Linked DNA regions of Homo sapiens: regions 2 and 3 are each reported to be linked to region 1. Evidence: microRNA targets listed by miRTarBase, many of them from high-throughput screens and not tested one by one. Region 1 holds a microRNA gene; each other region holds the end of a gene's coding sequence.
The links. Region 1 holds the annotated microRNA hsa-miR-7161-5p (UAAAGACUGUAGAGGCAACUGGU, at 958-980, opposite strand). A microRNA usually pairs through its seed, bases 2 to 8, with sites in the 3' UTR of a target mRNA and lowers its output. Matches are read on the target gene's strand: a 7mer-m8 pairs with bases 2 to 8, a 7mer-A1 pairs with bases 2 to 7 and ends in A, and an 8mer does both.

Region 2: the mRNA of UBE2W is a reported target of hsa-miR-7161-5p. Seed matches in the 3' UTR shown: 7mer-m8 at 2,358-2,364, 7mer-A1 at 1,863-1,869 and 7mer-m8 at 506-512.
Region 3: miRTarBase lists GOLGA6L4 as a target of hsa-miR-7161-5p. Seed matches in the 3' UTR shown: 7mer-m8 at 812-818 and 7mer-m8 at 790-796.

The regions. Positions count from the first base shown.
Region 1 is chr6:158,607,517-158,610,686 of GRCh38, reverse strand. MIR7161 (microRNA 7161) reads right to left here and starts at 980; the gene lies at 897-980. It overlaps TMEM181 (transmembrane protein 181), which reads right to left. Exons shown (of 17, transcript NM_001376852.1): 9 at 2,224-2,354; 10 at 1,937-2,028. It also overlaps the pseudogene TATDN2P2. RefSeq lists an enhancer at 867-1,368.
Region 2 is chr8:73,791,673-73,794,842 of GRCh38, forward strand. UBE2W (ubiquitin conjugating enzyme E2 W) reads right to left here. Exons shown (of 6, transcript NM_018299.6): 6 at 1-2,443. The coding sequence ends at 2,430. Among named protein-coding and RNA genes, the nearest start is that of STAU2, 46 kb to the left of the region's middle.
Region 3 is chr15:84,242,325-84,245,494 of GRCh38, reverse strand. It overlaps GOLGA6L4 (golgin A6 family like 4), which reads right to left. Exons shown (of 9, transcript NM_001267536.3): 9 at 137-3,035. The coding sequence ends at 2,903. Among named protein-coding and RNA genes, the nearest start is that of GOLGA6L4, 8.1 kb to the right of the region's middle.

The DNA of each region.
Region 1 (3,170 bases):
GATGTGGAGGCCTCAGAGGAAGGCAGCTCCCAGAATTCTCACTCATTTCACTTCTCCAGAAGCTCGGGAGGAAAAGAGGTGAAGCAAAGAAGAACATTCCAAGAGGAGATGCCTCTGTGTCCTTGTGGAGGACACACATCCAGCTCCCTGCCAAAGAGCCACTGGGAGCCAAGCCTAGAGCAGGGCTTCACTGATACCCACTGTCATTTGGATATGCTGTATTCCAAGTTGTCTTTCAAAGGGACCTTGACTAAGTTCAGAAGAATTTACAGCAGCTCCTTCTCTAAGGAATTTCAGGGTTGCATCTCTGACCTCTGCCACCCTCACCCTGACAAATTGCCTACGGGGGGAGCTGTTGAAAGAGAATCTGGTCTGGGGGGCCTTTGGCTGTCACCCTCATTTTCCATGTTACTACAATAAGAGTCAGGAAAGAAATCTTTTACAAGCCTTAAGGCACCCCACGACTGTGGCATTTGGAGAAACAGGCTTCAATTACTCCTACAAGTGCACCATGCCTGTCCCAGAACATCACAAGGTATTTAAGAGACAGCTTGAGCTGGCTGCGTCTCTAGAGAAGCTTTGGTGATCCTCTGCCAGCAAGCTGACGAGGATCTGCTGGACACCATGAGAAAATGTGTGTTCTCTGACTACAAGATACACAAGCATTGCTTCACTGCAGCTACCTGGCCATGGAACCCCTGCTGAAGTACTTTCCCAACGTCGGTGGGCCTCATGGCAGTCCTGACGTACTCCTCCACCTGAGAAGCCCGGGAAGTGCTGAGGCAGATCCCACTGGAGAGAATCATCATGGAAACGGATGCTCCCTACTTCCTCCCTAGCCGGGTTCCCAAAAGCCTTTGCCAGTATGCCCACCTGGGCCTGGCCTTGCATACAGTCCTGGAGACTGCCAGAGTCAAAGATCTAGTCTCCCACACCCTGGCCACTTTGCGTGAGAACACCAGTTGCCTCTACAGTCTTTAAGCAGAGAGGGCACAGTCATTGGGAGTCTCCCAGAAAAGGGCAACTAGCAACCTGACGTAATACAGGCTGGCCTGAAGTCTGTGTCCCAGGGGGAGGATGTGTTTGGAAGGCCGACTGGAACACAGAAAACCAGGACGGGATATTTTTCCTCAAAGCGGGTCATGAGGCTTCAGTTTCTGGGTAGTGGGTGTGGAATGAGGGGTAAGGGGACTGCCTGTAATAGCATTGGGGTTTTGCCTCCCAGCCAAAATGCTCCAAGGTAGGAGCAAAGAAGGAGTGTGACATGAGGGTACAATGAGTTTGCCAATCCAAATCCTGTTCTCTGCAGCCTGTGTTTTTGAGCAGCCTGTGACTAAAGTCACCCTCCTATTCGTCTAAAAAAAAAAGAAAAACATAGTATGGGTATACATAGGGTATAAACAGCTATATATAAGGATCAGTACTATCCAAGACCGCAGATAGTTAATGGGGGTCTGGGAACAAATCCCCCAAAAATAAGGGGTGTCTACTGTGTCACCAAGTTAGATAAACTGAAAGCTGATTCTTTTCTGGATGAGTTCACAGAACACAGTTTGATTGTAAGCCTTTTCACCTTTTTTTTTTTTTTTGAGACAAGGTCTCACTCTGTTGCCCAGGCTGGAGTGCAGTGGTGCAATCTCGGCTCATTGCAACCTGTGCCTCGCAGGCTCAAGCGATCCTCCCACCTCAGCCTCCCAGGGAGCTGGGACTACAGGCATGCGCCACCACGGCCAGCTAATTTTTGTATTTTTGGTAGAGACGGGGTGTCACCATGTTGCCCAGGCTGGTCTTGAACTCCTGAGCTCAAGTGACTTGCCTGCCTCAGCCTGTCAAAGTGCTGGGATTACAGGCGTGAGCCACTACGCCTGGCCTGGCCTTTCCACTTTTGTCAAATGCTTTTCATGACTGAAGTTTCACACATAATAGAATTACTCACGTTTGCCATATTCCTAGCGTAACAGAAGCCAACCACAATAGTCCAACAATGAAGAATTTAGGCAAATAGAAAGTTAAACACTTTCTTTCTCCCTAAAAAGAAAAAAATAAGAAGTAAGAAATAAAGAAAACCAAATTGGTAATTGTACATAACGTGATTTTTCCATTGAGTATGGGCCTGCAGACAGGCTTCCATGGATAAATTCACCTTTCTGGGCTGTCCTCAGAGTTCGGGAGGGAGGACACAGTCTGGAACCTCCCCCGGCAGTGAGGGCGGCTCCGGCTCACCTGGACACGAATCCCGTGGTACACGCACAGCCAGAAGAGCAGCAGGGCGCACAGGAACATGGACTGAAAGAGGTCATCCAGCATCCCTGGGAGCCAGCTGTTGACCAGGAAGGAGAGGGGGAAGAACGGATCTGGAACACAAAGGGCAGAAATCCATGTGGAAAACAGGCCCGCCAGCACCTGGCAGACAGCACCCCATACCTCTGCGGGGTCAGCACCTAGCAGAGAGCACCCCATACCTCTGCGGGGTCAGCACCTGGCAGACAGCACCCCATACCTGTGCGGGGTCAGCACCTAGCAGAGAGCACCCCATCCCACTGCAGGGTCTGAGCTCACTACCAGCTTTTCTCCCTGGTCAGAGCCAAAGGAAAGGTAGTGAACCAATGGCTATTTTGTTTTCCAAAACACCTAAAAGCCACTGAACAGATTGCTGCACTGATCACGACAGAGCGCCGTATGCCACTGCCATCAGCTCCTCCCGGAGCCTGGGAGTTCCGACTGCGGCAGCTCGGGAAGCAAACACTTTTGGAGCAGGAAAAGAGGAACAGCCAGCCATGTCTGGCCACCTTCAGCCAAGTTCCAGGACTGCTGTGTCTGTAGCACGTCCAAGTTTTAACTACCGAACAGCCGCCTATTTGTTAGAGAGCCAGGCATCTGCCCCAGCTCGGTGGAACATGGCTCCTGGGGTGGCAGGGAGCACACGGCTACATGTTCCTTCTGGGGCTCCCTACGGGCTCTTCTGGGCCTAGGCCATCTCCAAGATGGCTTCCAGCTTTAGTTTTGTTTTGTTTTAAGAGACAGGGTCTTGCTCTGTTATCCAGGCTGGAGTGAAGTGGTGTCATCATGACTCACTGCAGCCTCAGACTCCTGGGCTCAAGCAATCCACCCACCTCAGCCTCCCAAGCAGTTGGGACCACAGGCACGCACCACCATGCCCAGCTAAATTT
Region 2 (3,170 bases), not on the chromosome of region 1:
AAGGAGTTTTCAATGATTCCTAAATTCAAGAGAGTGTTGTTAGCCTGATTATGAATTTTAAATGTCTGTGCTCCTATATTTTAGGATATTTCATCTTATTTTCTACTCTTTAAACCATAAGATGTACCGAAATTATTTCATTTTCCTCTACTTTCCTCTGTGTCATTTTAGTTTACTTTATGGTATTTATATGTAGAGAGAGAGGTATGTTAAAATATTGTCATAAAAAACTCAATTGAGGCTATATATGACCTATTACTCTATAGTATAGCATTGTTAATCTTTGACTCAGTATATTAATTCCTTTGGTGAATAAATGTCACCGGTCATTTCTTTATAAAAGCATTTTGGTAAGAGAACCAGCAATATGGAGACAGATTTCTCCCTAACCCCCAGAAGAAGATCAAGTCAAACAGTAGTGTAGAGCAGTTACGCAAAATATGAAAATACATAATTTACAGCTGCAATTTTCATATTAAAAGCAGTTTAAAACTATGAGTAATTCAAAGACTTTCTGTCTTGGTTAAACAGGCCAACTAATAAAACTGACAGAGATCATTGTGAGAATTTATCTAGTCAAGATAGAACAAAAACGGTTATAATTTTTTAAAAGTGGTAATTGTTAACTAGCAGTATATAAACAGTGTCCACAATTTGGTGGCTGGCCACGGTTTTAATTTTTTTTTTCAAGTTATTTCTATAGCAGACATATTTTTGAAGTCTACCCACCCCTGAGTTCAGCAATTATACTTTGAGTGTAAAATTATATGCCCTTAATTAACAACATGTACAAAGCTACAAAATGTCATCTATACAGATTAAAAACAATTTTAAAATATTATTTACCAATTATTGATTGAATGGTTTTACTGGGGTACGTATTTCAAACCTTTCAGCCAACTGGCTTTCAGTTTTAAGCCCAAATTGATTCATATATTCACTGCAGGATATTTCAAAAAGAGTGCAACAATAAGGCATTAGTAAAAATAACATTGTAGTAGAAACAGATTTTGCATATGTGAAAAGGTAATTTATAAAATACATTAATCACTTTTTAAAAAGAACTTAGTTGTAGTATCATTAACTCACATGGTACTGAGAACTGGACCTTTCAACAATTTTTTTTTTCTATAGAAAGTTTCATCTAGCTGTAAGCAAAGTCTTTTCAACAACAACAAAACAAAACCCTCCAGGAAAAACTATATGGCTGTGTGAGACAAATAAGCAACCATTTGATAGTGACTTTTGCCTAAATTTTAAAATAAAAATGTCCACACTCTTTTGTTAAAACATTAAGCCTCTGTCAAAAATGTATTTCTTATTTTAGGGTACAGGATTAAAGGACAAGATGATACTCACAAGTAAAGAAAATTTACAAGAAAAAACTTAACAAAAGTTTCAATAAAAGTATTGTAACATTCAAACTTGACTTATAACAAAAGAAACAAGATTGCAAACAAAAATGTTTACGGGGTTTCCAAACATAAATAAATGAAATAGTGTTTAGGCAGTAGGGCTCATGCTGATGGCTAGCAGGAAGTTAACAGAGTGTAACTTACTTGGAAAAAATCTTTAATGTACAAATAACAAGCCCAAATTATGGACTGCAGCAATTTAATCATCACTGCCATTTTTCTTACTTCCAAAATAAAGCCTTGATTAAACCATTCATACCCTATATTACTCATACCTTTACTTCAGAGATTGAGGAACTATATACAACAAATTAATTTATTTTCACCATAGGGATAACATACTGTACCTCTCTGCCAATGTTACTTGAAAATCTTCCATGTCAAAACAACTTGACAGTAGATATAAACAATTCAATAAATATGCAATGATCTTTCATTACAGTCCTTTAAAGACGCATGTTAATTCATGCTGTTAACCTTAGGATCACAGTGCATAGAATCCAAATATAAACAGTTGGGGTGACTTTTAAAGTAATGTTGGATCCCTCACTTTATTTATATTCCCACTATAACCAGTAAGTTCATTTCATAGGCCCTATCATGCATTAATCATTGAATGGCAGGAGTTAATGAAAACTTTTCCTGTTACAACGCCCATTGCCGGCAATGAACGTACCAAAACCGCCAAGGAAGTCATTGTTATTGCACAATACATGAGGACCTGGAGCTTTTCCAAAAGCTTAAAAAAATAAAAATAAAAAATGGAATTATATTTGACATTTCCTGACACCTGCATTAATACTGTATGACTAATAAAAGCATGTCAGTTGCCTGGACTGAACCAGCGATCAACATGCGCCCAGAATGCACACGAGTAAAAATGCAGTAAAAGGAAGTAGTCTTCATTGCCTATAGGTCACTTCCAGTCAAAGGTTAAAGTTCAAAGACTGAATGATCAAAGTGCTCATTTTCTCAGTAGGACTATCTTCTGCTAGGAGGATGATAACAGTGGCATCAACAAGTATCATCTTTAAGAAAAGGAGAAAAAAGATAATTAAAAAGTCAAGCATGTATAAGTAAATTCTACAAGTCTGTTTAATGTAGAAATAATTTCAATTAGCAAGAAGTACATAGTTTACATGTCTGATCTGCCTCCCCCAAACCTGTGAATACAAAGTGCAATATATGTTCAATTATACAGTGACAAATTTTTATTCTTTCAGAGAAATAGTTCACATAAACCTTAAAATGATATGTTATTAGCACATTCTATTTAAAATAATAAACTGACATGACATGTTAGTACATAGTCAGGATGTATCAATCTTAAGAGAATTATTTTATGGGCAACAAGTTCACATTGTAATGAGACAGAAGTAAACTCCTGATCAACAGTGCCATGCTATTTAACACAGAATAATACACAATTTGTCTTTAGACTGTGAAGGAAGTAACTGTTCTTTACCAATGAGATACAATCTCCAAATCAATAAACAGTTAAGATTAATTTCCCTTTAGAAAATAAGTTTTCAGGCCGGACACGGTGGCTCACACCTGTAATCCCAGCACTTTGGGAGGCCGAGGCGGGCGGATCACTTGAGGTCAGGTGTTTTGAGACCAGCCTGGCCAACATGGTGAAACCCTCCCTCTACTAAAAATACAAAAATTAGCTGGGCGTCGTGGCACACATCGGTAGTCTCAGCTACTCAGGAGGCTGAGGCAAGGGAATCGCTTCAACCTGAGAGGCAGAGGGAG
Region 3 (3,170 bases), not on the chromosome of region 1:
TAATAAACACACTTACATAGTTACAATTTTGTAAGAATAAAAACCGATTACCTCATGCCAAGCATGCCGAGAATTTGCAGAGTCTCAATACCCAATACTATAGTTTTCAAGACACACAAAATTTTTAGGCAAAACAGCACCTTGAAACAATTTAATAATGTATTACATTACAGTAGCATCACAGAAGCAGTCAATAATGCCACTTTAGACAAAAATCAGTATTTCCATTATGCATTCTGTGTATAAGAATTCATAAATCGGTAAAAGTCATTCTAAGAAAACTTGGCAAATACAGCTTTGGACTGGAATTGGCATTTCTTTGTCTACTTTTCCTTCCCCTAGATTCTTTGTTTTAAACTACAGTATTCATATTTTAAAATGTTTTAAATTATTTTAAGACGTTAATATAGCAGTTACATTTTTGAATAGTTATTTGAAAGTGACTGTAAGATAAAGTTTTAGAGAATCTATTATGGATAGGGTTGATTTACATTTTCACATTTTCTAAAAATCAGCTTTGGTTTTAGAACTGATTGTTTTTCATTTTGGGAAAACCTACCAGGTTTAATCAATTACTTTAAAAATAATTATCATATTTTGCAGTCTTTAAATAGGTGTTTTGATTCTTTACTCCCTAGAGAAATTCAAATTTATTCAGTTGAAGTCACATTTTAAAATTCTATGTTCCTGCTGAACTCTAACCTTCTAATGTTGCCTTCTAAGCAAATTAAAGGCTGCCTTATACTGAATGAGGTAGAGAACAAATACTTGGCTGAATGAGGTACTGCAAAAGACTGCATGCACTTTGAAGAAAGACTTGAGTTATTGTCATAGGATTTCCATTCTCTTTAGCTTTTTCTTAAACATATGACAAAATACCTACACAAAGAGTCGTATTTGAATTAATATAGTATATTTATTTTTCAGACTGACATTCATCTTAAATATGCCAGTATGTGATTTAATCCACAGGTACCTGATGAACACATTATTGTCAGATTGGTTACAGTTGCTAAACGCTATCTGAAGGTCATTCCTATTCATTTATACGTGTCAGGGTAAAAGTGAAGCGATTTGAACTATAAAAATACCTTTGAAATAATTTATCAATGTATTAGATAAGCTCAGTTTCAGAATGATAAACAAAAACTGTTAGACCAAATAACGTGGCTAATTAACAGTGGTACGATTTCTAGCCCGAGGGTTTAAAATGGAGTTAAAGTAAGTGTCTTTAAACTGAACTCAAAGAATGCAAAAGCGGCAAGTTCAGACAAGGCAAGAACAGGACCTTTAGTCCATTTTAAGCCATAAATATTACACAAAATATGCCTCTAACTGAAACTGAGAGGTATAAAAACATATTTCACTCTTCGTAAAGAACTTTGTGAGGAAATATAACTCTGTGATTGTATAGACACTTTCCTCATGACACTTTGACAGTCACAAACAGTAGATTGCGCTGCAGTTTGTAAACATTTTACGTTGCATAAACTGCTCCTTGATTTTCAAATGTAGTATAATACTGTCTACTAAAACTCCTTTTTGTTTCAACTAAGTACTCTCACATATATTAGTTTATAATAATGTTTGTTATTATTTTTAAAGTGTTCTCCATTCAAGGAAAAGAAGTAAATTCCTATGTCAGATGGTTGAAGACTAGCTATTAGCCAGAGAGGTCTAGATGGTAAAATCCATCTTCTAGCCTCAAATAAGCTCCATGAACACAGAGGAATGCCAGGTGTCACACAGCTTTCCTTCACTCGAATTCATTCTTGACTAGAGCCTGTATATGCCTGTTCCAGGGGCATTTAAACTCTTAAAGGATTTCTTCTGATCTTTACTAAATACATTAAGGAGAACGCCAACCAGTGCCCTTTTGTGTACTGGGACATGTAGTCATGTGATTAAAACAGGGAACATGAACGCTGACTTTAAAATGTATTGTAGATATAAATGCTCTCAGCTAGAAAAGGTTTTCCACATCCACAGTCATGATGGGAGCCTTTCATTCCTCAGAAATAATCCCTTTTCAGGTCATCAAAAAAGAGTACAACTGCCACAGCTCATGAGGCAGTATCTTCATGAGCCCAGAGCACATACAAATCCTAAGGGAACTACCGTAGTACAGCGCTCATTCTTGGCACCGGAACAAATGAAACATATTCTATCCTGCACACACCTGCCAAAGCAGGCCACTTTCCTCTTCTGGGAGATTTAAAAACCTCCCCAAAATGTTATTACTCCCATCCCCAATACACAGAAAAAGGGGGAAAGGCTGTTTCCAGTGCTCCACCTTTAAACAACTGTAAATGTCAGTACTCACAGTGGCATATTACAAAGTAATAGACCGCGCACTTGAGGGCAAACTGCATATTGAGCTAATGAAGAGCTCACTGTGATTAGGATTCGATCAAACATAACAGCAGAACATAAGGAAATTTTATCTGAATTCCGTAATGAATATACAGGCTGTACTAACATTCAAAAAGCATGGCAGCCTATCCCAAACCAGCAAGAACAGTTGTGTGCATACAGTGGGTCTTTGTGTGTTTGAACTCCCACCACATAAGGGCAAACTCGATATGCATGCTAACGTCCTATAATTATCAAATTAAAAAAATGCTAAAAGATGCCAGAGTGAACATGAGAGAAACACCCACTCTCATTTAACTTTTTACAAATAAATTTAAATTATAAATTAGAAACACAAATAAATTTAAACTATAAATTAGAAACACAAATAAATTTAAACTATAAATTAGAAACACAAATAAATTTAAACTATAAATTAGAAACACAAATAAACATAAGTGGCTCTAACATTCAAATGAAGTAAATGAATTGTGTAGGATATTAACCCCTTAAATGTTTTGTTTTTTTTTTTCAATTCCTTGACCCGCTCTTAGATGATGGTGATGTTTAGCTCCCTGTTCTCCGCAGCCCGAAAAGAATGGCATGCAGCCTCTCCTGCTCCTCCTGCCGCCTCTCCTGTACCAACAGCTTCTCCACTCAAGCCTGGGTGCTCCTGGGGAGTCCTGCATTAGAGGAAGCAGCTGCTGGATCTGCTGTGCAGTGGGGTTGTCATGGGGGAGAACCCTCCCTGTCCTCTCCCGGTGCAGCCTCCATGCTATCAGTGAGGCTCAGCCCACTAAGATCTTCAGAGAGAGGGA